Homo sapiens: one gene and its partners. The protein of the gene in region 2 interacts with the protein of the main gene of each other region in a pairwise test. Each region holds a gene or a part of one and is shown on either strand. Other genes may lie near its edges. The genes, in order: BAG3, EYA2, IQUB and DTX2.

What was found.
Region 1: the proteins of EYA2 (region 2) and BAG3 interact in binary tests that used the Homo sapiens proteins (3 or more experiments, as listed by UniProt).
Region 3: the proteins of EYA2 (region 2) and IQUB interact in binary tests that used the Homo sapiens proteins (3 or more experiments, as listed by UniProt).
Region 4: the proteins of EYA2 (region 2) and DTX2 interact in binary tests that used the Homo sapiens proteins (3 or more experiments, as listed by UniProt).

Annotation. Positions count from the first base shown.
Region 1 is NC_000010.11:119,667,827-119,675,530, forward strand, and holds part of BAG3 (BAG family molecular chaperone regulator 3), read left to right. Parts: intron 1-2,024; coding exon 2,025-2,351; intron 2,352-4,428; coding exon 4,429-4,830; intron 4,831-7,704. UniProt on the Homo sapiens protein: Co-chaperone and adapter protein that connects different classes of molecular chaperones including heat shock proteins 70 (HSP70s), e.g. HSPA1A/HSP70 or HSPA8/HSC70, and small heat shock proteins (sHSPs), e.g. HSPB8.
Region 2 is NC_000020.11:46,890,782-46,898,395, forward strand, and holds the start of EYA2 (protein phosphatase EYA2), read left to right. Parts: upstream 1-4,061; 5' UTR 4,062-4,206; intron 4,207-7,614. UniProt on the Homo sapiens protein: Functions both as protein phosphatase and as transcriptional coactivator for SIX1, and probably also for SIX2, SIX4 and SIX5.
Region 3 is NC_000007.14:123,524,181-123,531,884, reverse strand, and holds part of IQUB (IQ motif and ubiquitin-like domain-containing protein), read left to right. Parts: intron 1-3,533; exon of another isoform or gene 3,534-3,640; intron 3,641-7,704. UniProt on the Homo sapiens protein: Adapter protein that anchors the radial spoke 1 (RS1) complex to the A microtubule of outer doublet microtubules in axonemes. The triple radial spokes (RS1, RS2 and RS3) are required to modulate beating of the sperm flagellum.
Region 4 is NC_000007.14:76,478,293-76,485,996, forward strand, and holds part of DTX2 (probable E3 ubiquitin-protein ligase DTX2), read left to right. Parts: intron 1-2,128; 5' UTR 2,129-2,217; coding exon 2,218-2,485; intron 2,486-4,215; coding exon 4,216-4,855; intron 4,856-7,704. UniProt on the Homo sapiens protein: Regulator of Notch signaling, a signaling pathway involved in cell-cell communications that regulates a broad spectrum of cell-fate determinations.

The DNA of each region.
Region 1 (7,704 bases), on a different chromosome or scaffold from region 2:
GAGCCCCTGGGCAGCCAGCAAAAATGACACTGCAGGACTAATGCAGGCTCCGATTTCGGCTGGAAGGAGGAGGACCTCAGTGAGTGGACAGAATGCCCACAGGCACGTTATGACTCAACACTGAGTAGCAGAGGGTTTCTTCAGCGCCTCTTGCTGGCTCCCTGTCAGGGCCATCTCACGGCAGGAATTCAGCTCTGAATGTGAGGCCTGGACCTGCTCCTGCTCTTGGGTGACCTGAGAGTTAAGCAGGCTAATGTAATGCCGCCGCCCTGAGCACGTGGCTGTTCTAATCTGAGAATGCCTGTCTGCCCATGTCCCCAAGGACACAGTGACACCCATGCCTTTCCTGTGTGCTGGAGGCCCTCCAAGGGCAGGGTCTCAGCAGGAGGGAGGCAGTTGATGGGCCTGAAAGGGCTAAACCAGGGTCAGCCACCTGGTGCCCACGCCTGCACACAAATAGAAACATCACAGAATTAATGGTCTGTTCTCTCAAAGTGCAGAGCAGCCCTCAGTATCTGTCCTTACTTTTGATTGATTCCGCAGCAGTAGAGATTGTCCCCTGCAAGCTCATAGATTGTTAGCCTTTGGCGTTTGTTCGCCGTGCAGACAGCTGCCTTCGTCAGGAAAGATCACTCCCCTTCTTAAGAGTTGCCTTACACAGATATATGCAAATGACACTTATCAGTAGCTCCCCTCCTGGGAAAGGACCCTCGGTGCTCGGGGACTGTTAGGACTTCTGTTGCGCAGCCCAGCTTGCTGAGAGATGGCATTGCCCAGTGAGTGACTGGCCAGCCTTGTTGTCTGAAATAAGATCTTTCCTGTGGTACATCTGGAACTTGGCCTTCTCAAGGGTCCCAAAATAGCCAGGCCACTGAAGGGAGAACTTCAAGAGAGGACATAAGAGAAGGACCCCAACTGCTCCTTGCCCAAGCAGGCTCTGTTGCGTTGAAGAAAAAGTTCTTCAGTGATACTTGTTAAAGCACAGTCAGGAAGATTTATTCGGGGCCATCAAGATAGGCACAGGGACCACGGCAGTGGGGTCGTGCAGTCATGGGTAGAGACTGGGCACAACTTCAAATACAACACGGGCGATTGGGAATTTATAGTCAAGGAGCAGTGTGGATGGAAAATTAGAAGAGGAAACATCAGGGCTAAGGGTGTTTCTGGCTATGCTGACCAAACAGGATTCTTGCCGAAGACAGGCCAGGGTGATTAGACAGCACCTGGAGGCTGTGGAAGCTGATCAGATAGTGAGGCTGGGGAGGGGGTTTCTGGCTAAACTGACTTAGCAGTGTCTTTTGCTAAAACTTGACTTTACAAGGAAGTGCACAGATGGGCCTAGGAGATGCTTCGGAAGCCTAAGATTTGGTCAAGCAGAGAATCTTTGTCAGTTGGCATCGTTAGGCGACACAGTTAACCCTGGGTGCCCCTCTCTCCCTATGCTGCCTCTGCATCCCTGTCCTTCCCCTTCCTGCAAATTGTTCTAACAATACTCCTGAGGAGGCAGCCCTCGCTCCCCAGCCCACTTCTCTGTAAAGATTCCCAAACTGTGTCCTGTGTTTGGGCCCAGTACAAGCTCTATATTGCTGGGAAATGTGAGGGCCTTTTTGGAAACAGAGACGCTTGCTGTAATGTAGAGGTTGGAGCTGACCCCTGCTCCTGGAGCTCATCTTCTGATCCGGGTCTCTGAAAATGCGGGCATGGGCAGCTCTCCTACACTCACCGCTTCCCTCAGTCACCCAGAAAAGAAACCTGTCTTACCAGTTTGGAGAATTGGGACCTTTCCTTTGCTTAACAGATACTTTTGGCTTTCTCCTGATGCCCCTAATTCCTAAACTGTTGGCCAAATAGCAACCTCTATGGGGTGGGGGGTTTGGAGGGTACAGGGGCTGGGAGCTGGCTGACGCTTTGAGGCCCAAGTCACTCGGGAAGATCACAATGCCAAGCGCCACAGTGTTTCCTCTGCCAGGAGGGTTCACTTCCCAGTTTCTAACCAGCCTGTGTTTCTCCACTTTTTATTTCAGGAGACTCCATCCTCTGCCAATGGCCCTTCCCGGGAGGGCTCTAGGCTGCCGCCTGCTAGGGAAGGCCACCCTGTGTACCCCCAGCTCCGACCAGGCTACATTCCCATTCCTGTGCTCCATGAAGGCGCTGAGAACCGGCAGGTGCACCCTTTCCATGTCTATCCCCAGCCTGGGATGCAGCGATTCCGAACTGAGGCGGCAGCAGCGGCTCCTCAGAGGTCCCAGTCACCTCTGCGGGGCATGCCAGAAACCACTCAGCCAGATAAACAGTGTGGACAGGTGGCAGCGGCGGCGGCAGCCCAGCCCCCAGCCTCCCACGGACCTGAGGTAAGGAGAGGCCAGGCTCACCAGCCTGCTGGGGAGCAAGCCGCTGTGCTTCCCAGGCCGGGCCCATCCCCTCAGGACAGTGCCCTGGGCCAGGCACCTGTTCACATGCAGGGCATCTGGGTCTAGCCTGCAGCATCAGAGGTCACCCAGCAAAGACAGGGTGATGGCCCCACATCATCCCCCAGCATCTCATAGGGCTGTTCTTCAGTGGGGCAGGGCAGGAATCATGTGGCTTCTTTTTGTAGCTAAGGAACGGCTCGGAAGGGCACACTGCAGCCTGCCTGCTCCAGATGCACACAGGTGGAGGGAGCAGAGCTGGGACCGGAAGCCTGGCCTGCCTTCTGGCGCCTAATTTCCATGCTCCTTATTCACACTGGGCTTTCTATTCAGAAGCACAGAGATAGCTGTGCATTATTTTGTTCAGTTCAATGCTTATGGATAAATCTTAACCGCTTGTGGAGCTATGTTGACAGGAAAATGAGACCCCATGCCTGCCCTCACCGTGCACCACAGTTTCAAAAGAAATAAGGAGTCAGGAAGGCAGCTGCTTTAAGACAGCATTTTAATCCTGAAGCCAAACATCTCAGGGATATGTCAATGGATTCTGTGCATTAATAGCTAAAAAATAGTTCTTAATCTGGTTCTTAGCTGAGATTTGAGGCATTCCTAGTAGGATTCCTAAGCAGTAAGTCCTCTCATTTTCCTGTCTGCACATCATCCTGTGGTGTGTGCCAGCGTTGTTCCTGGGCACAAACTCCCGTGTCCTATCTGCACCCTGAGTCATGCTTGCCTCTCAGCTCCGTCTGAATCTGTTCAGCTTCACACCTGCTTGAGAGTGAAAGTTACAGTTAATGTGGGATACCTTTTTTCTTTTCTTAGAGAGGTAGTACCTGGCTGAGGCAGGTGGATCACTTGAGGCCAGGAATTCAAGACCAGCCTGGCTAACACGGTGAAACCCCGTCTCTACAAAAAATACAAAAATTAGCCGGGCATGGTGGCACATTCCTGTAATCCCAGCTACTCAGGAGGCTGAGGCAGGAGAATTGCTTAAACCCAGGAGGCAGAGGTTGCAGTGAGCCGAGATCGCACCACTGCACTCCAGCCTAGGTGATAGAGCGAGACTGTCTCAAAAATAAAAAAATAAGTAATGCCTATATTTATAATGGTTTTGCTGCAAGAAATCAAAGTGACACATAAATGCGAGACATCTTCACAAATTTAGGCTAACAAAGCACTTAGAAGAGGAAATGCTCTCAATTTCGAGGTGAATAGAAGGTGGCCCAGCAGGGAAAGGTGCTTGACCTGCCTTGGGCCACACGGGATGCTGGCAGCTCCCAGTTGCTCAGCCGAGTTCTCTGTAGATTGGCAGAGAAAGGGTAGTGGGGACAACACATCCCTTGTATGAGCGCTTCCTGTGTGCTGGCCTGGGGCTGAGGCACATGCCCAGGTGACTGACCTCATCTTCAGAGCAGCCCAGTGAGGGAGGGGCACTCTTCCTATATTTCAAATGAAGCTTAGAAAATGATTGAATTACTAGGAATTTGAACATAGGCCCCTTGATTCCAAAGCCTTCAGTCTTTGTTGTGTGTGTGTGTGTTTTGTTTTGTTTTGTTTTGTTTTGCTTTGTTTGAGGTGGAGTCTCTCTCTGTTGCCCAGACTGGAGTGCAGTGGTGTGATCTCAAATCACTGCAACCTCTGCCTCCTAGGTTCAAGCAATTCCCCTGCCTCAGCCTCCTGAGTAGCTGGCACTACAGGCATGCGCCGCCACACCCAGCTAATTTTTGTATTTTTGGTAGAGATGGGGTTTCACCATGTTGGCCAGGCTGCTCTTGAACTCCTGACCTCAGGTGGTCCACTCACCTAGGCCTCCCAAAGTGCTGGGATTACAGGTGTGAGCCACCGCGCCCAGCCCCAGAGCTCTCAGTCTTAACCGCACATTTTGAAAATTGAAAATTACAGATAGGAGGTCTTACAATATGGATTGCCCTGAGGAGGTGCACAGCAGAAGGCGTGGTCAGGATGCCAAGCCAGGGGAGTCATTTGTGGGGTCATGCCCTCTACCCTGTGTCTCTTGCAGCGGTCCCAGTCTCCAGCTGCCTCTGACTGCTCATCCTCATCCTCCTCGGCCAGCCTGCCTTCCTCCGGCAGGAGCAGCCTGGGCAGTCACCAGCTCCCGCGGGGGTACATCTCCATTCCGGTGATACACGAGCAGAACGTTACCCGGCCAGCAGCCCAGCCCTCCTTCCACCAAGCCCAGAAGACGCACTACCCAGCGCAGCAGGGGGAGTACCAGACCCACCAGCCTGTGTACCACAAGATCCAGGGGGATGACTGGGAGCCCCGGCCCCTGCGGGCGGCATCCCCGTTCAGGTCATCTGTCCAGGGTGCATCGAGCCGGGAGGGCTCACCAGCCAGGAGCAGCACGCCACTCCACTCCCCCTCGCCCATCCGTGTGCACACCGTGGTCGACAGGCCTCAGGTACGGGAAGTTAGTCGTCAGCAGACTGGTTATGGTGGTATGTCTCCAGGGGTGCAGGAGCTCTGTGGGTGCCCTGGGTTCCCCCTTCATCCCTGCCTATTTAACATGCGTGTACCTACAGGCAAGTGAGATTCGAGAAATTGCTAGGTATTAACAGAAATGCAGGACAGTTGCTCAGGCTGTGAACCCTCCGCACTCTGCAGCTTTTGCTGGGCTGATCATTGTGCATTGCGGCTGACTTAGAGCAGACGAAACAGCTTGGCAGAACTTACATACCTGGGACCAGCTTCCTTAGTGTCCACCACACCCTTTCAGGGCTCTTCACACCCCCATCCACACCGCAGCCACAGCCTCACCTTGGGTGTAGGCAGTGTGTCACCTTCCACTCAGTTACCCACTCCACTCTGCAGGCCCATTCTGCTCATTCCCACCCCTGTGCCTTTGCCCATGCTGAACCCGCTCCCTGAAATGCCCGCACAGTATAGGTTCTCCCTGTCCTCTGAGGGACGAGCCAGTCTTGTCTCCTCCATGAAGCCTACTCATCCTTCTCATCTCATGATGCCTCATATGAGTCCCTTAATGAGAACTCCCAACTTGTATGAGTTCAACATGTCATTATTCGGGGCATTTCAGAAGTGTTCATTTTATCTCTTCAGCTTAGGGCTGAGCCTGACCACAGGGCCCATGTCTTAACCCCCCTCCTCCCTTTGTAATCAGGTACCATGTGGTCTGGCTGAGGCATCAGCCAGCTATGGCGGATTGGAAGCCGTGCTGGCCTGGGGAAGGTTGTAGGCAGGGGTCTGGTTATCTTCCAGTGGAGACACAAGGTGCAGGTTCCTGGAAGAGGATGTCATTTAGTTTAAGCAGCTCACAGCTTAGCAGCAGGACAGTCAGCAGCCCTGGGCCCCCTGTGGCTGCAACTTGAGCAGCTGAATGCTACAGTTTTTAAAAAGGAAAGCCCCCCGTGAACAAATGTGGGATATTCTTTCATTACAAATGGTCACACTGGCCAGGGCCCTGGAATAGAGCACCCTCATCTTAAAATGTTGTTTTATTTGGAAATAATTTCAATCTCATAGAAGAGTTGTGTGAATCATACAGAGCCCCACATATACTTCATCCAGTTCACTGTTTGTCAATATGTCTGCATTCGCCTTGTCATTTCTTCTCTCGTATATTATTGATGTGTTTTAACTGTTTGAAAATTAATTGCAGACATCATGTCCCTTTTCCCCTGAATAGCAAATATTTTCCTAAGAGGAAGACATTCTCGTTCATAACCATGGTAGACTTACCAGATTCAGGAAATTTCACATTCTTACAACATTATTATCCAGTACATTTTTGAATCTTTTTTATAGCAGTTTGCCCCCACTTCCAGGATGTCTTCCAGGACTGAAACAAGGATCATGAGCACCGCATTTAGATGCAACTTCTCTTCAGTCTTCCCTCAGCCTTTCTTTGCTTTCACGGCCTTGACGGTTTTGAAGAACACAGGCTGTGGAACACCCTCTCTAAAGTGTTTCTAAAGTCACTTCTTACACAGCCATTGCTGTTAGAACCTAGGAGGGGTGCGTGGTTGGGTTGTGAGTGGTAAGGGCCAAAGTTGCGAATGTCTGCATTGGCGAAAGAGATTTGATGGAAAAGGAGGTTGCTGGAGTGTAGACAGCTACATCGATCCATACTTGGGTTCAGCAATCCTAGGAGGGTCCCATTTGTAGAGAGAGGGATATTTTCTCCACATCATTCCCATGTGTTTCTCATCATCAGTGAAATGATATTTCATCCTGTTCTTACCATTAACCGTGTTTGTGGTGACCTCCCTTTTAGAGCTGATTCAAAGTTCCCTTTTGGGAGGCTTTCCAGGATTTCACCAAACTGAACGTTATAGTGGAATTGAGTGTTTTAAGCTGGGAATAGTTTAGAAATAATATAGTCCAGTTATTTCCCAGTTGATGAAATTAGGGTGAGATTTTAAAAGAAGTGTTAGATATTCACTTACATGAATAAGAGCCAAGATAAGGCCAAGCGCAGTGGCTCACGCCTGTAATCCTGTAATCCTAGCACTTTGGGAGGCCGAGGCGGGGGTATCACTTAAGGTCAGGAGTTCAAGACTAGCCTGGCCAACATGGTGAAACCCCATCTCTACTAAAAATACAAAAAAAAAAGTTAACCAGGCATGTTGGTGGGCGCCTGTAATCCCAGCTACTCGGGAGGCTGGGGTGGGAGGATTGCTTGAACTTGGGAGGCAGAGGTTGCAGTGAACTGAGATCACACCACTGCACACTCCAGCCTGGGTGACAGAGCGAGGCTCCGTCTCAAAAACAAAAACAAAAACAAAAAGCGTCAAGATATTTTTGCTTTGAGCATAGCTCATTAAAAAATATATGGCTTACTAGGCGTGGTGGCTCACACCTATAATCCTAGCACTTTGGGAGGCCGAGGTGGGCAGATTGCTTGAGCTTAGAAATTCAAGACCAGCCTGGGCAGCATGGTGAAACCCTGTCTCTACAAAAAAATAGAAAAATTAGCCAGGCATGATGGTATGTGCCTGTAGTTGCAACTAATCATGAAGCTAAGGTGAGAGGATCACTTGAGGCCAGAAGGTTGAGGCTGCATTGAGCTGTGATAGCCCCGCTGCACTCCAGCCTGGGCAACAGAGTGAGACCCTGTCCCCCACAAAAATCTATATATCTATATGGCTGTAGTTTATAGTCACAGGAAAACCTGTGCAGCCAGAGGTTAGCACAGAGGCGCTGTGTCATTGCTGAATGTTAGGCTACAGCACAGCTATCCTGAAGCAAAATTGTTCTGGAGTTAACCATTTAGAGCATCTTGGCTAATCCTAAAAAAATACATTGGTCTGGGCAGAAA
Region 2 (7,614 bases):
AAAAAATTGAATGCTTTTTCTGTAGAGGTGACCTTTGCAGGTGGGAAAGGAATATGTTTAGAAAAAAGGCATGATTTGTAGAATTCACATGTGTGTTTGTAGGATATGTATATACATATCCTACAATGAATATACATACATTGGATATATTGTGAGGTTCATAGTTTTCAAAATTAATGTGTTTTTCTGGCTTTAGAGGGCATTTACTTGGAAGACTGGAGTGGGGGAAATGTGTTTTACTCCAAGGTAGGCATGACTGTGGACTACACCACAAAGAATCTGCTGTATGGCTTAGCACTTTCAAATTTTGTTTGGGATCATTTTGCTGGTTGTTATCAAATGAGGACAAATACTTAACAAAGAGATAGCAAGGGAAGAAAGAGACAGAAAGGGGGTGCTTCTACATAGGAAGGTGGCTGAATTTTCAGGGTCTTGAATTAGCATTGGGGGCTTAAGTCCTATCAGCTTCTGCTCATCTGCTGTGACTCTGTGGTCAAGGTCTCACTCTCCCAAAGATAGGGATTCTCTTCCTCTGCTGTATATTGGAATCACCTAGGGAGCTTTAAAAAAGGATGATGCCGGCCAAGCACAGTGGCTCACGCCTGTAATCCTAGCACTTTGGGAGGCCAAGATGGGTGGGTCACCTGAGGTCAGGAGTTCAAGAGCAGCCTGGCCAACATGAAGAAACCTTGTCTCCACTAAAAATACAAAACTTAGCTGGGCGTGGTGGCACATGCCTGTAATCCCAGCTACTTGGGAGGCTGAGGCAGGAGAATTGCTTGAATCCAGGAGGTGAAGGTTGCAGTGAGCCAAGATCACACCATTGCACTCCAGCCTGGGCGACAGAGTAAGGCTCCTTCTCAAAAAAAAAAAAAAAAAAAAAAAGGCAGATGCCACAGTTCCACCCCAGAGTCTGGTTTAATTGGTCTAGGATGGGGACTCAGCATGGAGATTTTTAAAAGCTCTCCCTGGAGATTCTGTGCACCCAGAGTTGAGAATCACAGCGCTAAGAGAAGGAAAAATAAAATTAATAAGCACCTGCCTCCTGCTTATCTCTCAGGGTCGTTGGGGTGTGTCTGTAATTTATGAAATAATGGGCCAGATTCTGGGGAAGGAATAAAATGGTATGAAGGAAATAGATTAACCCTTTGCATTCTATAGGGTACCTTTGGTTAACAAGTGTTCAAGATTTTTCCCCATGAGCCACAGGAAGAAACATTTCACATCCTGACCAAAGATATAGATATAGATATGGATATAGATATAGATACAGATACATGTGTGTATATATATATGTATGTATGTATACGTATATATGATATACGTATACATATATACATATATATCTCTCCATTGTAAATTGAAAATATCCTAAGTTCAAAATGCATTTAATACGCCTAACCTACTGAACATCATAGCTCAGCCTAACCTACCTTAAATGCACTCAGAACACTTGCATTACCTCGCAGTTGGGCAAAATCATCTAATACAAAGCCTATTTTATAATACAGTTTTGAATATCTCATGAAATTTATCAAATATTTTGCTGAAAGTGAAAAATAGAATGGTTGTATGGGTATCTCAATTGTGGTTTCTACTGAATACACATCACTTTCACATCGTCATAAAGTCAAAAAAATCATTAAGTGAAACCATCATAAATTGGGGACCATATGTATACATTTAACTATATATAGGGGATCATATGTATATATGTAACTATATATGTATAGGTATGTATATATATTCTTACTGCATACAATTCACTTGATATTTCCTATTCCAGTCTATTCCTTTAGGAAAAAAAAATTAAGGTTCACAGGCCAAGACAAATTAAACACCTCTGAAGGTCATTAAGATGCTCAATTTATAATGACTTGGAGCACTTAGCAAAGATACTATGGGAAGTGAAGCTGTGTGTACAGTAATAATATTTGTTGAGCAATTGCTAGTGCCAGCTGCAGTCATAGTAGAAAGTGTTTTATGAGCATGAGCTCCATGAATTTTCACAATAATAGTATAAGATGAGTACTGTTATTTTCACTTTAGTGATGAGAAAATCAAGGCCAAGTACATATGTACATTCTGCCTCTAGAAGACAGAAGCAGAGCCATCTCCAAGCCTACTGCGGCAGGCCCAGAGAAGAGAACAACCATGTTTACTGAATACATTTGCTTCTGTCTGAAGTTTGGGGAGTAGAAAGCGGAGTAAGCTATGACCAGAGGTGGGTCTGGGAATGGTGAGGCCTGATACATGTATAATTTGCAGCCCCTATTCAAGAAAAAGAGTACAAAATTATGAGTCCAAGATTAGATAAGAAAATGATTATTTCTTTAAATTAAGAAAAGAAATCACAACAAATTCAAATTTTAAGAAGCTGAAAATTACCACAAACATCACAAAATTCCCAACTCAACTTTCCTCCAAAATGCCAGCAGCCACCTGACACCACCCTACTCAAGGGCAAGTTGGGGGTGGGGAATCGGAGTGGAAAGACAGCGGTGTCTACGGCCTGCAGCCAAATGTCCAAAGCAAAGGACTTTTGTAAACTTTACATCAACAAGCCACCATCTGAACACTTTTCTAAGTCCCCTTAGAAAGGGGTCCAAGCAAGTCAGGGGCCCAAGAACTTAACCTTCATCAGCTCCTGTAAACTTACAACTGGAATTGAAGACTGTTACGGCTCAAGAGCAACGGCTTTGGAGTCAGCCAGGCCTGAATTTCATTCCTGGCTCAGCCACTTTCTGCCTTCTTTGAGCTTGGACCTGCTCATTTGTGAAATGAGTGTGCTGACAGCAGCTACCTTGGGGTCTCTCTTGGGGATTACATGAGATAAGGAAGAGTTGGGCATTGGATGAGCTTAAGGTTGCAAATAAAAATATAGGACCCCCGGTTACATTGGAATTTCGGAGACAAAAGAAATACTTTTTAAATATAAGTACGTACAACCAATCGCATAAGACATATACTGCAACTGATTCCTCGTTTCTCTGAAATTCAAATTCACCTGGGTGCCCTGTCTTTTACTGCACTTAAGAAATGACAGTGGTTGATATTGCTTTTGGATTGAAGCATCCTGGGTGTCCCACGGTGGAATTCATAGACATTAGAGAGTGGGTGACGGGCTAGGAAAGGCTGCATAGACTCCAATTAACACAGTTCATTGCCAGGGAGACTAAAAGGGGGGTGGCTATGAGAGGATGGAGTAAGTGGGGTGCCTTGATTTGGGCATGTAGGTGGAGGGGGCTATACCTCTCACTTTCACTAAACCAGTTAAGCTCTTGAGACCTCAGTTTCCTTAGCTGTAAAATGGGTGAAACATAGGGGAGACCCCTGAACCGTTCTCACCTAAATACCACACCAATGGCACTTCCTCATAATTCAGATGTCACCTCCTCAGAGAGGTCTTCCCTGACTGCTCTAGCTAAAATTACCGCCTCTCCTCCACTCCCCAACAGCAGATACATATATTATTTTTCTCCCTGTAACTCTAACTTTCTGAAACTGTCTTGCTTCTTTACTTGGTTATTTGTTTATGGTTTGCCTCTCCATGTGAATGCAAGTTCCGGGAGGGCAGAAAACTAGTCTGTCTTGTTCTAGCTGAGTCTCTCAGGAGTGGTACCTGGCACAGTAGATGCTCAATATATTTTGAATGAATGAATGGGTGGTTGAGTGAACGAATGTTAGTGTCACTATTGAGGTCCTCTCCGAGCCGTCGTTCCTTTCACAGGGGTCATGCCTGGGTTGCAGGGAGGATGTGCTGCCCCGGGGAGGGAGGAGGTGCGGGGTGTCGGTGGGTGGGGAGGAGGCTGGGCCCTGGCCTCCAGGACCGGCGAGAGTGAGCGCGCTCTGCTCGGCTGCAGGCTCAGGAAGCGGCGCGGCGGCACGTGCTGGGCCAGAGCCCCGCGCCCTGCGTCCAGCCGCCGGGTGTGTGCGCCCGCGTAGCCCAGCGTCGCGCCTCGGCGCCCCCACGCGCCCACGCAGCGGCGCGGGGACCCGGGCGGGGGCAGAGGGAGGGCCCGGCCCAGGGAGGAGAAGGGGCCGGTCCTCCCGGCGCAGGCAGCAGCCGCGGCAGCCCAGGAGGCGGAGGCAGCGGCAACGGCAGAGACAGCAACGTGCCCGCCGCAGTCAGCCCGGCCTCGTCGGACCCGCACCGGCCCGCCCGCCCGCCCGCACCGCGTCGGGGCGCCCTCTCCACTGCGCGCGGTGAGTACCGCCAGCGGCGCCCACCCCAGGCCGCCCGCCGGGATTCGCCGGGCGGGGGGAGTTGTTCACCGGGACCCCCTCGCCCTGCGCCTCTTTCTGGCACTCGCCAAGCGGGGCCTCCGCAGCTGTCGGGACGTTCTGGGGCGCACGGGCCTCCCAGGGCCAGGAAGGCACAAGGGCAGAGGGGACAGCAGCAGAGCCCCCCTCTGGAAAGGCTCTCCCAGGCTCGGGGCCCCAGTTTCCCCATGCGCTTTGGGGCAACGACCCTGAAGTTTGCTCTCCCGCGCGCGGGACAAGTGCATGGCGCGCAGGCGGTGTAGACGCGGCTGGGTCCTTGGCGTTTTGTTCGATTATGGTCCCGGCGGTTCGCGATAAGGGGCGCTCCCCCAGTCCGCAAACTCAAGCCCTCAGGTAGTGTTTATGGGATAACCAAGAAGCAGAGCCAACCGCTGGAATCCCGGCTTGGGGCTGGAACGGCCCGCTGAGACTTTGCCTTCTAGCTATTGATATATTTCTTTTCAAAAGTCCGTTTGCGCTCGGCCCGCTCTGGTTCAGGTCTGGGGCTTTGAACCGGGGCAGGGAATCCTGGCGCCTGCTGCGGGTAGAGTTGAAACTTAGAAAAGTTTACATCCGAAGGGTGTTTAGAAGGCGGCAAGGATTTCGTTGTAATGGGAGAAAGTGGGAAATGGAATTGTTTTTTAGTCATGAAGTCTGGAGGTTAAACGGCCGTGCTGGCCCAGGCTCCTTCAATATATTCCTGCCTGCCTCCCCCCCAGCAATAAATAGTTTATAAGCTCAAGGAATACTAGGAAAGCGTGACTGGTGAACGTACTCCTATCGCAAAAGACTCAGTGCGCTTTTCTCAGCTGTTGAACTGGAAGCGCCTTTTGCAGTGCGAGGTTCCTGCTTCCCCGAAGCCGAGGCTGAGAGTTGACAGCGTGCACCCTGCCGCGGTCTGAATTCTTTTTAAAAAGCAAGACCGATGCTGCGTTTTTATGGATACCCTTTTCTTTTCTTTCCCCTTCCCCGAAATGCTATGTAATCTTCAATTACTTTTTAAAATATAACGTGGAGGTATAAATCACCCCGGTAAGAGGTACCTTTTAATTACGAGGTGCAGTGGAAGAGCTGAACATTGGAATCTAGCTGTTAGCGAGGGCGGAGGGGCAGGAGGATGATTTACAAACATCATGTAAGAATTTGAGCACTGAATTATGTTTGAGTTAGGGAGATCCCTTACAAAGGAAATTATAACCAGTGGACAATTGTATTTCAAACCGAATCTATTAATTTCATGAGCCGTTTCTTGATTGAGTGAAATGTCTGTGACCATAATAGATACAGAACTAGTAAGCACCTTACCAGACTATGACCCATTTGTTAGCAACTAACATACACATGTAACCATCCTGCTTACAAAAAAAAAAAGAGGTACACAAAGAAAGAGTGGGAGGAGAGAACCTCTTTTTCAAAATAATCTTTGTGAAAGAATCTTTCACAATTTTACTCGATAAATAAATGTTCATTTTTTCCACTTGTCTTTCTTCATCACCTTAAGCCCCTTCATCCTTTACATATCTTTGCATTTAGACACTCTCACACTTGGGTAAGTTCTTCTATAATTTATATAACAAATAACAAATGATAGTGGTTTGAATCTTGCTTTTGACTAAGCATTAAATTGTGTTTGTATTAAAAAAAATCTCCTTGCCTTCGTAGCAAACTCTTAACTTTTGCCATTGTGAAAAGACCAATGTGGTTAGATGCAAAAGAGCCTGAACTTTTTTTTACTTTAAAGCAGTTTATATGTCCCCATTCTCTTGTAACTTCAGCTTCACAATATCATTCACTATTTTATCTGAAAGGAATTGGCATTTTTCTTTTCTGTCTTAAAATAGCTCACCTGGTGTTGTGACCATGTGTATGAGAATACTCTATAAACACACAAATCACTTCCCCAATATCAGAAAAACTAAAGGAAATATAAAATAAAATAAAAAGATGTGTATCTCAATACTTTAGGATTTTTTTAAAAAGTTTTCATCACGTAAGTTTTAGAATCTTCTTTTCATGTCTTTTGTTTTGCATTAAACACATCATAAAGAGGTATGATTTGTTGACTTGTTATAGGATTACCATTTGGCAAAAACGCCCAAGACACGCTGTTTCAAATATGTGGTATTACTTCTGCTTTAAATTGCGTGTAAGAGATTGCAAACCTTGTTCCAGATGGATAAATTGATAAAATGCTAGCTGCTGTTGGGAGAATGGAAAAGCCCTCAGCAAAAAGGCTCTGTGGTGTAGCTAAGTACATTTTGAATTAGGGTGAGCAAGCTATGGAGACCCCAGCCGTTTGTGAAAAAATATACACAGTCCAAGCACGTCCACTTTAAGACGTTGTTGGATCCTCCGTGACAAGATGACTCCTTTCCCACAAAGAAGAAACCGTTTCCTTATTTTTTCAGTTACTTTTCCAAAGACAACTTGCATCGGGCGCAAGAGAGCAGAGTTATGCAGAAATCCAACCGTAACCAGCTCAGAGCGAGGACTCATTCTCTCTCCTTCCACCAGATGTTTTTTAGGTGTCCTCAGCTGGAATGCCCAGTTTGAAACTAATTAGGCCAGCAGTAAACTCCTTGTATAATAAAATCGCAGGCCGTAATGGTGAATAAGTGAGGTTCCCAGCCGCTTATGACAGATGCCTTTCTGGGCAGAGAGAGAAGAGAGCCTGTGGCTGTCAGGAGAAAATGAAGGGAGTGGAGGTGCCTTCTTTAGACACATGCCTTTCCTAAGTATCCACGCACATGATCGCAGAGCGGAGGAGTGGAAGTTGCGACTGGGGTAGAGTTTTGTCTTTGCTGGGCAGGCCTCCTTCATACAAAGATGCTTGGGGGAGAATCAATTATAAGTATTAGGCAGTGTCTTCAGGTCTTAGGTGTATGCTGTGTGTGTGTGTGCAAAGGCTTGGGGAGAAGGATTGGTGTCACGTGCGGGGCAGTGTAAAAAACTTAACTGCTTCCCACCTGGGCACAAAATGAAAAGAAAGACTGCCTGGCCTGACATAAATTCCTTGGGAGAGAGGAGAACCTGCTCCCCCAGAGACTTTTGATAAAGGGAGAATTCGCCTAATGATGTGGTTCCCCTTATCTGTGAGGTTTGTGAGGGTGAAGGAGTTGGTTAGTCTGTTACCTCCAAAGGCTGGACTTTCTGACTAAGACTGGGTTTTGTTGGTGGAAGGAACCGGGTTTTTTGGGTTTTTGTGTTGGTTTTTTTTTTTTTTGGTTGTTTTTGTTTTTGTTTTTTTTAGCTAACTGTTCTGAAAAAGGAGTTGGTAGACTGTGCTCAAAAGGAATCTCTTTACAAAGAATTAATCCCAGAGTTAAGAAAACACAGCCTGTTGACAGAAAA
Region 3 (7,704 bases), on a different chromosome or scaffold from region 2:
GCTAATGGAAGTGGTGATCGTTTAACCATGTGGTTATTGTAGTGGTGAAGATTTACACATTAAATAAGTCTTGGGCATCTGAAGCTTGAAACACTTTCTTAATGAAATCTTGCCGTTGAATCTGTACTTACTGATAATATGTCATTGGTTAAAATATATTTATAAAATGTATAATTGACCAGCAGGTTAATACATTTTTATCATTAATTTGAAATTTATCAAAATGAGAATATACAGTACCTGACGGTCAGTGGAGTTTGATCTTAATTTGATTTGAAAATTATGATCAGGAAAATAAATAACCTGAATATATGCTTAATAATATAAGACTTTGAGTTTGCAAAACAGAAATCCTGACTTGACTAAAATACACTTTTCATTTGACGGAGACCTTTAGTTAAGGAAAGATTAGTTTTAGCATTCAACATAACTAAATACCCAGCATTATGTTTTACGGTTTTTTTCAACAATGATTTATGTGTCGTGTTTGGTGTTGCCTCCAAGCAGTACCTAGGATAGCTGATGCTTTTACTTTGAGTCTTTTTCTTTAGTTGGAACATTAATTGCAAGCTTTTGGTTGGTAATCATTTTTTATGGGATGTATTTACTATATGGTCCTCACGGAGACACATTGTTATCTGGAGAACCACAGTTTGGAAAATACATTTCTCTTTATTATAAAGTTTTTTGTTTTATATATATAATGCCACAGTGTGATAGGATACAAAGACTATGCATTAGGGCTTTGGAGTCTTAATTGTTCTTTGTGTTTTTCTTTTTTTCCAATTTGATTATGGATCCGAACCTAATGCACTCTGTGATCTTAAGCAAGTTTCTTGACAGTTCCAGTTTTCCTATCTACAGAGACAAGAAGATCTACCTCAGAGTCATTGTAAGGATTAAATAAATTTGTAAAGCTCTCAAAGAGCAGCCTAATCCCAGCATTTTGGGTGGCCGAGGCGGGCGGAGCACCTGAGGTCAGGAGTTTGAGACCAGCCTGGCCAACATGGTGAAACCCCGTCTCTGCTAAAAATACAAAAATTGGCCAGGCATGGTGGGGGGTGCCTATAATCTGAGCTACTGGGGAGGCTGAGGCAGGAGAATTGCTTGAATCTGGGAGGTGGAGTTTGCAGTAAGCCAAGATCGCGCCACTTCACTCCAGCCTGGGCAAAAAGAGTGAAACTCCATCTCAAAAAAAAAAAAAAAAAAAAATCAAAGAGCAAAAAGGTAAAAAGTTTGTGCAGAGTAAAAAATGGGTAGAAATGGATTACAGGGAAGCTTATAGTGAGAACAAACCATAAATAAAATTGACATTGTGAACACCAGCCTTAGATTTTTTTTCCCTGAAAATTAAAAAGTGCTTTTTTAAATTTTTTTATTTTTTGAGTTGGAGGGTTTTTTGGTGTTGTTGTTGTTGTTTGTTGTTGTTTTGTTTTTGGTTTTTTGTTTTTTTTCAGAGTCTCCCTCTGTCGCCAGGCTGGAGTGCAGTGGCGCTATCTCAGCTCACTGCAACCTCCGCCTTCCAGGTTGAAGCGATTCTCCTGCCTCAGCTTCCCGAGTAGCTGGGACTACAGGTGCCTGCCACCATGCCCGGCTAATTTTTTGTATTTTAGTAGAGACGGGGTTTCACCATGTTGGCCGGGATGGTCTCGATCAGGCGTGAGCCACTGTACCGGTTGAGATGGAGTCTTGCTCTGTTGCCCAGGCTGGAATGCAGTGGCATGATCTCATCTCATTGCAACCTCTGCCTTCCAGGTTCAAGTGATCCGTGTTTCAGCCTCCCCAATAGCTGCGATTGCAGGCTCCTGCCACCACTCCCAGCTGATTTTTGTATTTTGTTTTGTTTTCTTTTTGAGATGGAGTCTGGCTCTGTCGCCAGGCTGGAGTGCAGTGGTGCAATCTTGGCTCACTGCAACCTCCAACTCCCTGGTTCAAGCAATTCTCCTGCCTCAGCCTCCCGAGTAGCTGGGATTACAGGCACATGCCACCACGCCCAGCTAATTTTTGTATTTTTGGTAGACACAGGGTTTTATCATGTTGGCCAGGATGGTCTTGATCTCCTGACCTTGTGATCCGTCTGCTCAGCCTCCCAAAGTGCTGGGATTACAGGCATGAGCCACCGCACCTAGCCTGTTTTTTTTTTTTTTTTTTTTTTTTTTTAAGTAGAGACAGGGTTTCACTATGTTGGCCAGGCTGGCCTCCCAACTCCTGACCTCAAGATCCGCCCACTTTAGACTCCCAAAGCGCTGGGATTACAGGCATGAGCCACTGCATCCAGCAGAAAATTTAAAAATTAATATAGATTATTGTTTATATATAATTGCATGCATTTAAAAGTTCGATCTTTAACATAACTTTAAAAACTGATTCTTAAAAAATAAATTATCCTATTAAAACAAAAAAAAAACACTAGAGACAGCTTAAATGTCCATCAATGAACAACAGTTGACTACCATGTGGCTTAGCCTTGCAAAGAAGTTACTGTGAAGTTGTTGAAAAGAATGCGGCAGAATCGTATTTTACATAAAAATAAATGTTAAGCACGTATTATAAAAAGTCATAAAATAGTATTAAAGTTTAAAAATAAACAGAAATATAGTTTATGAAAGACATTGATATGATCATAAACAAATTTAAATGTATATATATTATATAATTGTAGCTTTATAGACAATTCCTGGAAAGATAAACTGCCTAACAATGAGAAATAAAATTAGCATGTCTGAAATACTTTTACTTCTTATTTTATCCCCTTCTATTCTGTTAGTTTTTTTTCTAGTAAGCACATATTACTCTCTTAAAAACAACAACAAAATGAATGATAACAATAATGAAAAAATGATTTTGAAAAGTCTTTTCCAACTGTAGCTTTCCAAACTGGGTTGGAAGATCACATTTTACATTTCACACTTTTAATATGTGTACTTTGTTATTTACATTTAATATTTGCTGCAGTGAGAGTTTACACATATGTATGCAAGTAGAGCATATTAATATGTACATATGAGGGGGTATTAGGAACCAATAAAATTAGCTCCTTGTTCTAGATGGGTGAAAAAAAATCTGCTGAATATTTTTTACTCTATTTTAAATCATAGTCATGTTTGTCACTTAAGAATAAAAGACATTCTCTGATAATATATCTGATGGCAAAATTGTTAGTTAAATTCTGGATCTGACTACCACTAACCTACCATGAGGCATTCCTGGGTCTTAGCTTTTTCATCTGCAGGGAGATCAGTTTCTAGACTTTTTCTTCATCACCAGGACCCCTTTTCTGTTCTCCTCCCAATCCCCCATGGACTCCTACACTGAGATACAGCACAGTTAAGTGGTTAAGGGCATGGGTTCTGGATCCAGACTGCCTGGATTTGGATCCCAGATATACTGCCTACTAGCTCTGGGTTCTTGAAAATATTGCTTAACCTCTCTGTGCTAATTTCTTTATCTGTAAAATGGGCATAATGATATCATCTGTGAGAATTAAATAATTTGGTATAAGTATTTGCTAATATTATGCTTTATTTTAAAAGTATTTTTTTCGGGGAGGAGTCAAGATGTCCAAATAGGAATAGCTCTGGTCAACAGCTCCCAGCGTGAGCGACGCAGAAGACGGGTGATTTCTGCATTTCCATCTGAGGTACAGGGTTCATCTCACTAGGGAGTGCCAGACAGTGGGCGCAGGTCAGTGGGTGCGTGCACCGTGCGCGAGCCGAAGCAGGGCGAGGCATTGCCTCACTTGGGAAGCGCAAGGGGTCAGGGAGTTCCCTTTCCTAGTCAAAGAAAGTGGTGACAGACGGCACCTGGAAAATCGGGTCACTCCCACCCGAATACTGCGCTTTTCCGACAGGCTTAAAAAACGGCGGACCAGGAGATTATATCCCCCACCCGGCTCGGAGGGTCCTACGCCCACGGAGTCTCGCTAATTGCTAGCACAGCAGTCTGAGATCAAACTGCAAGGCGGCAGCGAGGCTGGGGGAGGGGCGCCCGCCATTGCTCAGGCTTGCTTAGGTAAACAAAGCAGCTGGGAAGCTCCAACTGGGTGGAGCCCACCACAGCTCAAGGAGGCCTGCCTGCCTCTGTAGGCTCCACCTCTGGGGGCAGGGCACAGACAAACAAAAAGACAGCAGTAAACTCTGCAGACTTAAATGTCCCTGTCTGACAGCTTTGAAGAGAGCAGTGGTTCTCCCAGCACGCAGCTGGAGATCTGAGAACGGGCAGACTGCCTCCTCAAGTGGGTCCCTGGCCCCTGACCCCCGAGCAGCCTAACTGGGAGGCACCCCCCAGCAGGGGCAGACTGACACCTCACACGGCCGGGTGCTCCAACAGACCTGCAGCCGAGGGTCCTGTCTGTTTGAAGGAAAACTAACAAACAGAAAGGACATCCACACCAAAAACCCATCTGTACATCACCATCATCAAAGACCAAAAGTAGATAAAACCACAAAGATGGGGAAAAAACAGAGCAGAAAAACTGGAAACTCTAAAAAGCAGAGTGCCTCTCCTCCTCCAGAGGAACGCAGTTCCTCACCAGCAACAGAACAAAGCTGGATGGAGAATGACTTTGACGAGCTGAGAGAAGAAGGCTTCAGACGATCAAATTACTCCGAGCTACAGGAGGAAATTCAAACCAAAGGCAAAGAAGTTGAAAACTTTGAAAAAAATTTGGAAGAATGTATAACTACAATAACCAATAAAGAAAAGTGCTTAAAGGAGCTGATGGAGCTGAAAACCAAGGCTCGAGAACTACGTGAAGAATGCAGAAGCCTCAGGAGCCGATGTGATCAACTGGAAGGAAGGGTATCAGCGATGGAAGATGAAATGAATGAAATGAAGGCTACAAGCCAGAAGAAAGTGGAGGCCAATATTCAACATTCTTAAAGAAAAGAATTTTCAACCCAGAATTTCATATCCAGCCAAACTAAGCTTCATAAGTGAAGGAGAAATAAAATACTTTACAGACAAGCAAATGCTGAGAGATTTTGTCACCACCAGGCCTGCCCTAAAAGAGCGCCTGAAGAAGCGCTAAACGTGGAAAGGAACAACTGGTACCAGCCGCTGCAAAATCACGCCAAAATGTAAAGACCATCGAGACTAGGAAGAAACTGCATCAACTAATGAGCAAAATAACCAGCTAACATCATAATGACAGGATCAAATTCACACATAACAATATTAACTTTAAATGTAAATGGACTAAATGCTCCAATTAAAAGACACAGACTGGCAAATTGGATAAAGAGTCAAGACCCATCAGTGTGCTGTATTCAGGAAACCCATCTCACGTGCAGAGACACACATAGGCTCAAAATAAAAGGATGGAGGAAGATCTACCAAGCAAATGGAAAACAAAAAAAGGCAGGGGTTGCAATCCTAGTCTCTGATAAAACAGACCTTAAACCAACAAAGATCAAAAGATACAAAGAAGGCCATTACTTAATGGTAAAGGGATCAATTCAACAAGAAGAGCTAACCTAAATATATATGCACCCAATACAGGAGCACCCAGATTCATAAAGCAAGTCCTGAGTGACCTACAAAGAGACTTAGACTCCCACACATTAATAATGGGAGACTTTAACACTCCACTGTCAACATTAGACAGATCAACGAGACAGAAAGTCAACAAAGATACCCAGGAATTGAACTCAGCTCTGCACCAAGTGGACTTAATAGACATCTACAGAACTCTACACCCCAAATCAACAGAATATACATTTTTTTCAGCACCACACCACACCTATTCCAAAATTGACCACATACTTGGAAGTAAAGCTCTCCTCAGCAAATGTAAAAGAACAGAAATTATAACAAACTATCTCTCAGACCACAGTGCAATCAAACTAGAACTCAGGATTAAGAATCTCACTCAAAACCGCTTAACTACATGGAAACTGAACAACATGCTCCTGAATGACTACTGGGTACATAACAAAATGAAGGCAGAAATAAAGATGTTCTTTGAAACCAACGAGAACAAAGACACAACATACCAGCATCTCTGGGATGCATTCAAAGCAGTGTGTAGAGGGAAATTTATAGCACTAAATGCCCACAAGAGAAAGCAGGAAAGATCCAAAATTGACATCCTAACATCACAATTAAAAGAACTAGAAAAGCAAGAGCAAACACTTTCAAAAGCTAGCAGAAGGCAAGAAATAACTAAAATCAGAGCAGAAATGAAGGAAACAGAGACACAAAAAACCCTTCAAAAAATTAATGAATCCAGGAGCTGGTTTTTTGAAAGGATGAACAAAATTGATAGACCGCTAGCAAGACGAATAAAGAAAAAAAGAGAGAAGAATCAAATAGACGCAATAAAAAATGATAAAGGGGATATCACCACCTATCCCACAGAAATACAAACTACCATCAGAGAATACTACAAACACCTCTACGCAAATAAACTAGAAAATCTAGAAGAAATGGATAAATTCCTGGACACATACACTCTCCCAAGACTAAACCAGGAAGAAGTTGAACCTCTGAATAGACCAATAACAGGAGCTGAAATTGTGGCAATAATCAATAGCTTACCAACCAAAAAGAGTCCAGGACCAGATGGATTCACAGCCGAATTCTACCAGAGGTACAAGGAGGAAATGGTACCATTCCTTCTGAAACTATTCCGATCAATAGAAAAAGAGGGAATCCTCCCTAACTCATTTTATGAGGCCAGCATCATCCTGATACCAAAGCTGGGCAGAGACACAACCAAAAAAGAGAATTTTAGACCAATATCCTTGATGAACATTGATGCAAAAATCTTCAATAAAATACTGGCAAACCGAATCCAGCAGCACATGAAAAAGCTTATCCAACATGATCAAGTGGGCTTCATCCCTGGGATACAAGCCTGGTTCAATATACGCAAATCAATAAATGTAATCCAGCATATAAACAGAACCAAAGACAAAAACCACATGATTATCTCAATAGATGCAGAAAAGGCCTTTGACAAAATTCAACAACACTTCATGCTAAAAACTCTCAATAAATTAGGTATTGATGGGACGTATCTGAAAATAATAAGAGCTATCTATGACAAACCCACAGCCAATATCATACTGAATGGGCCAAAACTGGAAGCATTCCCTTTGAAAACTGGCACAAGACAGGGATGCCCTCTCTCACCACTCCTATTCAACATAGTGTTGGAAGTTCTGGCCAGGGCAATTAGGCAGGAGAAGGAAATAAAGGCTATTCAATTAGGAAAAGAGGAAGTCAAATTGTCCCTGTTTGCAGACGACATGATTGTATATCTAGAAAACCCCATTGTCTCAGCCCAAACTCTCCTTAAGCTGATAAGCAATTTCAGCAAAGTCTCAGGATACAAAATCAATGTACAAAAATCACAAGCATTCTTATACACCAACAACAGACAGAGAGCCAAATCATGAGTGAACTCCCATTCACAATTGCTTCAAAGAGAATAAAATACCTAGGAATCCAACTTACAAGGGATATGAAGGACCTCTTCAAGGAAAACTACAAACCACTGCTCAAGGAAATAAAAGAGGATACAAACAAATGGAAGAACATTCCATGCTCATGGGTAGGAAGAATCAATATCGTGAAAATGGCCATACTGCCCAAGGTAATTTACAGATTCAATGCCATCCCCATCAAGCTACCAATGACTTTCTTCACAGAATTGGAAAAAACTACTTTAAAGTTCATATGGAACCAAAAAAGAGCCCACAT
Region 4 (7,704 bases), on a different chromosome or scaffold from region 2:
AAGGTTTCAGTGAGAAGGGTAAGACCACCTTCCCTGGAAGGGAGACAGATGTGGAGCAGCACCTGGAAAGAAGCAGGCCTGGGCTCTGGCATCAGTGTGCACACACACTGCATCAGCTCTGATTTTTTTTTTTTTTTTTTTGTAGAGGTGGGACCTCTTGTCACCGAGGCTGGAGTGCCTTGGGATTATAGCTCACTGCAGCCTCTAACTCCTGGGCTCAAGCCATCCTCCTGCCTCAGCCTCTTGAGTAGCTGGGACTATTGGCATGCACCTCCGCACCTGGCTAACTTTTAAATTTTCTGCAGAGATGGGATCTCACTATGTTGCCCAGGCTGGCCTCAAACTCCTGTGCTCAAACCACCCTCCTGTCGCAGCCTCCCTAAACACTGGCATTGCAGGTGTGAGCCACCACACCCAGTCCCCTTGACCTCTTTCAGCCTTGGTTTCCTGTCCGTAAGTGGGAGAAATGTCACCTTGGCAGTCTGTGCAGCTTAGGAGAGACAAGTACATTTGATGTTGGTTACTAAATGTTGGACCCTGGACCGGCACTCCAACAGCCGGTGCCCTGGGGGGCAGCCATCAGGTGGGGCATTTGCAGGCCTCTTCTTATTCAGACAGCTCCAGGTGCTGAGCGGAATCATTGTCCACATTCACTCTGTCATTCTGAAGCAGTGTGTAGAACATTCTAGAACACTCACCACGTGGCATGCCCCTGCTGGGTCCCGGTGATGCAGCTGTGAATGAAGCAGGCTTGGGGTTGCTGCCACCTGGGGAGGAGCAGAAGGACTGTGGTCACAGCCACACGTGGACGCGGTTACTAGGGTTCTGGTGGGTGCTGTGGAGGGTGCAGAGGGCGTGTGATGGGTCATCCTGAGCGATGCAAGCTGGGCCTGGAGGACGTGGAGTGTTCGCAAGGGAAGAGGGTGGGCTGGAGTGACTGCAAGGAGAAGGTCTCGGGAGGTGGAGCTCGGGATGTGGGGAAGAGCTCCCTGGGCCTGGTGGCCGGTCAGCAGGGGCCAGGTCGGGGAGTGGGTGCAGAGAGCCTTGGAGAGGCCAGAGAGGGGTGATTCGGTGCCCATCTAGGGCTTCCTTTTTGGTTAGCAATGCTTCAGGGCACCTGGGAGACATGAGGAGCTAGAACCTGTGCTGCAGTTCCCAGCTCTGCCCCTGCTCCCTGGGTGTCCCAAACCCTGCTCCTTTCCAAGAAATGTTGGGATCTCATCTTCAGGATGGTGGGTGCTAATAGGGAGGCTGAGGTGGGTGGATCACCTGAGGTCAGGAGTTTGAGACCAGCCTGGCCAACATGGTGAAACCCCGTCTCTACTAAAAATACAAAAAATTAGCTGGGCGCAGTGGTGCATGCCTGTAGTCCTAGCTACTCGGGAGGCTGAGGCAGGAGAATCACTTGAACCTACCCGGGAGGTGGAGGTTGCAGTGAGCCGAGATCACACGCCTGGGTGACAAGAGGGAAACTCCATCTCAAAGAAAAAAAAATACATGCATGATGAAACACACTAAGCAGTTGGGTCAGAGGGGAATTATCAGTAGCAAGAAAGAAGCTGGGCTGGTGACTAGCACCCGGAATTTATGCTCTCTTTCTTCATGGGCCTGTGCGGCGGTACGTAGGCTGCGGGATTGACTTTGAATTCTTCCTGGCTGCCACAGCAAAGAGACAGGATCAGGTTCTTGATTCATGATGCCCTTAAGGTGTTAGGGGAAGAAAAGCAAGCGTGAGACCAGGCGCGGTGGCTCACACCTGTGATCCCAGCACTTGGGAAGGCTGAGGCGAGTCTATCCCTTGAGGCTGGGACTTTGAGACCAGCCTGGGCAACACAGACATCATCTCTACAAAAAGTAAAAAAATGAGCTGGGTGTGGTGGTGAATGCCTATTGTCCCAGCTGCTCTGGAGGCTGAGTTGTGAGGATTGCTTGAGACCAGGAGTTTGAGGCTGCTGTGAGCCAAGATCACACTGCTGCACTGTAGCCTGGGTGAGAGAGTGAGACCCTGTAACCAAAAAAAAAAAAAAATCAGCTGTGGAAAAGCATCACGTGTTTCCCCTGCGCTGAGGCTGATTCTGCAGGGCTACTGATGTGCATTGGTAACTGCTCATGTCTGTCCTGTTCACAGATCTGCCGGAGGCGCTGGGCAATGACCCCGGGACTCCAGGCCAGAGGGGTCTGAAGCTGTTTGGGAAAGCAGCGGGACTCCTTGGGAAGATGGCCATGGCCCCAAGCCCTTCCCTGGTGCAGGTGTACACCAGCCCCGCGGCTGTGGCCGTGTGGGAATGGCAGGACGGGCTGGGCACCTGGCACCCCTACAGTGCCACCGTCTGCAGCTTCATCGAGCAGCAGTTTGTCCAGCAGAAGGGCCAACGTTTTGGGCTTGGGAGCCTGGCCCACAGCATCCCCTTGGGCCAGGCAGACCCCTCGCTGGCCCCTTACATTATTGACCTCCCCAGCTGGACCCAGTTCCGCCAGGACACCGGTAAGACGCTGTCTGCCTCTCGCACATATCTGGGTGCCGCACCTGCTTTCCCACAGGCTCTGCGCCAGGTGTTGGGGTGATGGACGTGACTTACAGAGCTTCTGCTCTCTCCCTGCAGCACACGTGGTGGTGGGTGGGTGCAGTGAGTGGGAACATCCACATAGGTTGAGTGCAGCTCACAGTGGGAGAGGCACTGTGGGAGGCCCTTCCCCTTGTCTTGCAAAGCAGAAATGCCTGTCCCGACCACAGAGGTTGAAGGGTTCCTTTGGCCGGCAGGCCGGCATGGAGGTGGTGCGTCATAGGAGTTCAGAGGGCCCTGTCCCACCACTCAGTGGCTGTGTGCCCTGGGCAGGCAACTGCGCCCCTCTGCATGTGTGCGTTTCTGCTTTTTGGTCTGCGATGTGTTTTGATCTTTTTTTTTTTTTTTGAGACGGAGTCTGGCTCTGTTGCCTAAACTGGAGTGCAGTGGCGCAGTCTCGGCTCACTGCAACCCCTGCCTCCTGGGTTCAAGCGATTCTCCTGCCTCAGCCTCCCGAGTAGCTGGGATTATAGGCATCCACCACCACACCTGGCTAATTTTTGTATTTTTAGTAGAGACGGGGTTTTGCCACGTTGGCCAGGCTGGTGTCGAGCTCCTGACCTCAGGTGATCTGCCTGCCTCGGCCTCCCAAAGTGCTGGGATTACAAGCATGAGCCACCGCGCCTGGACCTGCAGTGTGTTTTGATCAGTATTATTGAGAATGAGGCACCAGTTTCCTCTCGGAGCCATCCCTTACTCTAATCTGGTGGTTGTCACTGGGGGTGATTTTGTCCCCGGGGCCATCTGACAATGTTTGGAGACATTGTTGGTTGTTACAGCTGAGTGGGTGGGAGGTGGGGGTGCTCCTGGCATCTGGTGGGTGGAGGCCAGGGATGCTGCTCGCCATCCGGCAGTGCACTGGGCTGGCCCTGCAGTAAGGAATTATTGGCCCACAGTGTCACCAGTGAGGAAACTTGAAAAACTGGTTTTTCCTTTTTTTTTTCAATTTTAATTTTAGTTTTATTTTTAAAAGTATGGGTTTTTTTTTTTCGTGTTTGTTTGTTTGTTTGTTTTTTGTAAAGACTGGGTCTCCATTGCCCTGTGTTGCCCAGGCTGGTCTTCAACTCCTGAGCTCAAGTGATCCTCCTGCCTTGGCCTCCGAAAGTGTTGGGATTACAGGCTCGAGCCGTCATGCCCAGCCCTGGAAACTATGTGTTTCCAGGAGTGTCGTAGAGTCTGTGAAAACTGTGGCTGTCAGTCAGCTCCCAAGTCGTTGCCTTCACAGTGTGTGAAGTCAACTGAGAAAGATAGCAGACAGGATAAATAATAACATGGAAATTGCATATCGTGGCAGAGAGCAGGAAGTGTTAATCGGGGAATGAAAGTGGCAGGTGTTGTAGAGGTCGATTTGAAGTTAGCTGGGTGTGGTGTCATGTGCCTGTAGTCCCAGTTATTTAGGAGGCTAAGGCAGGAGGATCGCTTGAGCCCAGGAGGTCAGGGTGGCAGTGAACTATGATCACATCACTGCACTGCAGCCTGGGCGACAAAGGGGTACCCTGCCTCTAACAATAAATAAATAAACAAATAGCAGCATGACTGTGTACCTACTGTGTTCCTATTTGTTTATTTTGGCGGTTGAAAAAAGAATTTGAACGTTCCCTGTATCTTGGGGATGCTAGCAGACTAACCTTTTGTTTTCCTTTGAAAATAGGCACCATGCGGGCTGTGCGGAGACACCTGTTCCCCCAGCACTCAGCCCCTGGCCGAGGTGTCGTCTGGGAGTGGCTGAGCGACGATGGCTCCTGGACTGCCTATGAAGCCAGCGTCTGTGACTATCTGGAGCAGCAGGTGGCCAGGGGCAACCAGCTCGTGGACTTGGCCCCCCTGGGGTACAACTACACTGTCAACTACACCACCCACACGCAGACCAACAAGACTTCCAGCTTCTGCCGCAGCGTGCGGCGCCAAGCAGGGCCGCCTTACCCGGTGACCACCATCATCGCTCCGCCGGGCCACACAGGCGTCGCCTGCTCTTGCCACCAGTGCCTCAGTGGCAGCAGAACTGGCCCCGTGTCAGGCCGCTACCGCCACTCCATGACCAACCTCCCTGCATACCCCGTCCCCCAGCACCCCCCACACAGGACCGCTTCTGTGTTTGGGACCCACCAGGCCTTTGCACCGTACAACAAACCCTCACTCTCCGGGGCCCGGTCTGCGCCCAGGCTGAACACCACCAACGCCTGGGGCGCAGCTCCTCCTTCCCTGGGGAGCCAGCCCCTCTACCGCTCCAGCCTCTCCCACCTGGGACCGCAGCACCTGCCCCCAGGATCCTCCACCTCCGGTGCAGTCAGGTATCGTGGGCAACGGCCGCTCGTTTTGTCTGCCCTGTGTTTCCGCTCTTAGCCGGGAAGACTCACCCCAATTCCTGCAGATGCGGCTCCTGCCCCCTAGGTGGTCCTGCCGTGGCATCTCATTTGCATGTGGCATGTGGGTGCCGAGGTGCCGTGGCCATCCAGAGCCTACCTGACCCCTTGTACCTGAGTCCTGGCGGTCACCACACGGGTTAGAATCTACAGTCCTTTCACTCATGATGATTAAGGGCCTCCACATGGAGCAGAGTTAAAGGCCTGTGGCCTCTGCTTGCGGGCTGCATGGCGAGCATTGTGCCCGAGAACACTGGGTCACTGCCTGTACACTGACTCCCGCCTTGTGCCAGGCCCTAAGGACCCAGAGACCAGAGTATCAGCCCTTACCCCTGAGCCCTAGTCTAGTGCAAGGGGCTGTCAGCGCGGTGTGAGGGAGGGCAGAATGTGGAGCACGTGGCAGTGGCTGCAGGTGGCATGGGTGACCTGGCCCCCGTGATGATGCAGCCCAGCCCAGAGTGCCTGGTAGAGCGCTCAGCTCCTTGAGAGAGAGAGAATGATACCACGGGCCCAGTGCAGACCAGAGCGGGTGGCATTTAAAATGAGGAGATTGGTCAGGCACAGAGGCTGACACCTTTAATCCCAGCACTTTGGGAGGCCAAGGCAGGAAGATCATTTGAACCCAGCAGTCAGAGACCAGCCTGAGCAACATAGCGAGACCCCATCTCCACAAAAAAAATTTTTTTAATTAGCCAGGCATGGTGGTACACACCTGTAATCCCAGCTACTTGGGAGACTGAGGCAGGAGGATTGCTGGAGACCAGGAGGTCAAGGCAGCAGTGAGCTGTGATCGCACCACTGCACTTCAGCCCCCTAGGTGACAGAGCGAGACCCTGTCTTAAAGCTGGGCCCAGTGGCTCACGCCTGTAGTTCCAGCACTTTGGGAGGCCGAGGTGGGCGGATCACCTGAGGTCAGGAGTTCAAGACCAGCCTGGCCAACATGGTGAAACCCCATCTCTACTAAAAATACAAAAATTAGCCAGGCATGGTGGCCAGCGCCTGTAATCCCAGCTACTTGGAAGGCTGAGGCAAAAGAATCCCTTGAACCCAGGAGGTGGAGGTTGCAGTGAGCCAAGATCGTGCCACTGCGTTCCAGCCTGGGCAACAAAGAGCGAAACTCCATCTCGGGGGAAAAAAATAAAAAAGATAAAATGAGGAACCCCCCCAGGATTTCCCTGGATTTGGCCAAGGTGAATGGGCTGGCCGTAGCCCTCTGACTGTCTGGGTGACTTGGGGCTTCGTCATTCATTATTGAGAATGTTGGGCTTGGAGCACATTTTGAGAATTCAGAGTGGTAGCTGGGACAGGGCTTTCTGAGAGTGCCCTGGTGCGGGTGGTGAGGGAGTGGGTGGGCCTGGGGCCACCCTGGTCCCAGGGAGGAAATCATCTCCTTTCTCCGCACTGGCCCTGGTCGGCATCCTGCTGCCTCCCTGCTCACCGGCCCACCCCTGCCCACCGCAGCCACGTCAAGGGCTGAAACTTCACAGGGTGGTTGAGACCGCCTTGGCAGCTTCTTGGACCTCTAGTATTTGTTCAGACTGGGTTTCCGAGGACCCTGCCAGCTTGTGTAAGACACAGTGACAGCGCCTCCCGCTCATTGGTTCGTGTCATGTGCCAGGCCCTCCTGAGCAGGCTGCTTGAGTGACTTCACTCATCCCACGATGCTCTCAGGCTGAGCAGTGTTCTTCGCTTACAGGAGAGCACATTCAGGCCCATGAGGTTGGCGACACAGCCAGCAAGTAGCGGAGCTGGGATTCAGCCCAGACCCCAAGAGTGGGCTATCTGGGGCACATGGGGAGTTATTGACATTCCCGGGAAGGCAGGGGGCTCTTTTAATACATTTTAATTTTATTTTATTACTATTTTTAAAGACAAGGTTTTGCTCTGTCACCCAGGCTAGCGTACAGTGGTGCAATCATGGTTCACTGCAGGCTTGAACTCCTGTGCTCAAGTGATCCTCCTGCCTCAGCCTCCTGAGTAGCTGGGACCACAGGTATACACCACCACACCCGGCTAATTTTTCAGTTTTACGTAGAGGCAAGGTCTTGCCATGTTGTCCAGGCTGGTCTTGAATTCTTGGCCTCAAGCAATTCTCTTGCCCCAGCCTTCCAAAGTGCTGAGATTATAGGCATGAGCCACCACACCTGGCCCAAAAGGCCTCTTGAGGGATGAGCTAGGAGGAGGCCAGTAGACAGGAGGGTGATGGGCCTTGGGTGAGTCAGAGTTTTCCGGGGCATCTTCTGCCAGGAGTTGGGGCACGTGCATCTGAGATCTTTCTGGGAGTTGGGAGTATAGGAAGGTGTCATCGGGGCTCTCTGAGGACATAGACATAGGCAAGCCAGGCTCAGGGAGATGCTCCCCCAACTTCCCTCCCTGAGTATCTGGGTCAGCCTGTTTCAGAGAACAGTGTGCTCTATCTGCTGGCCCAGGAGGGTTCTTAGAGGTGCTGGGACTTCTGTCAGCCCTGTTCCACTCAGCTTCCTGGAGCTTCTTAAGTTCTTAGGAATTATTTTGAGGCAAATTTCTAGATAGTGCTAGAGCTGGGATTCTGGAGTTAAGTCATTTAATGTGGATTTGTTCCTTTCTCCTGGTATTGGGCCTCGTTGGTCTTTCCTAAACCATTTCCGTTTCTCCCAGTATTTCTCTGGGGTCCCCGTCCCTGGCCTGAGGGCCCCCAGAAGTGCTGATGTGGGTCCTACCGGTGTGGGCCAGGCAAGTTACAGAAAAGAAGGTGGATGGGCCAGTCTGTCTTCCCTTGGTGCTGGGGTGGGCATGCT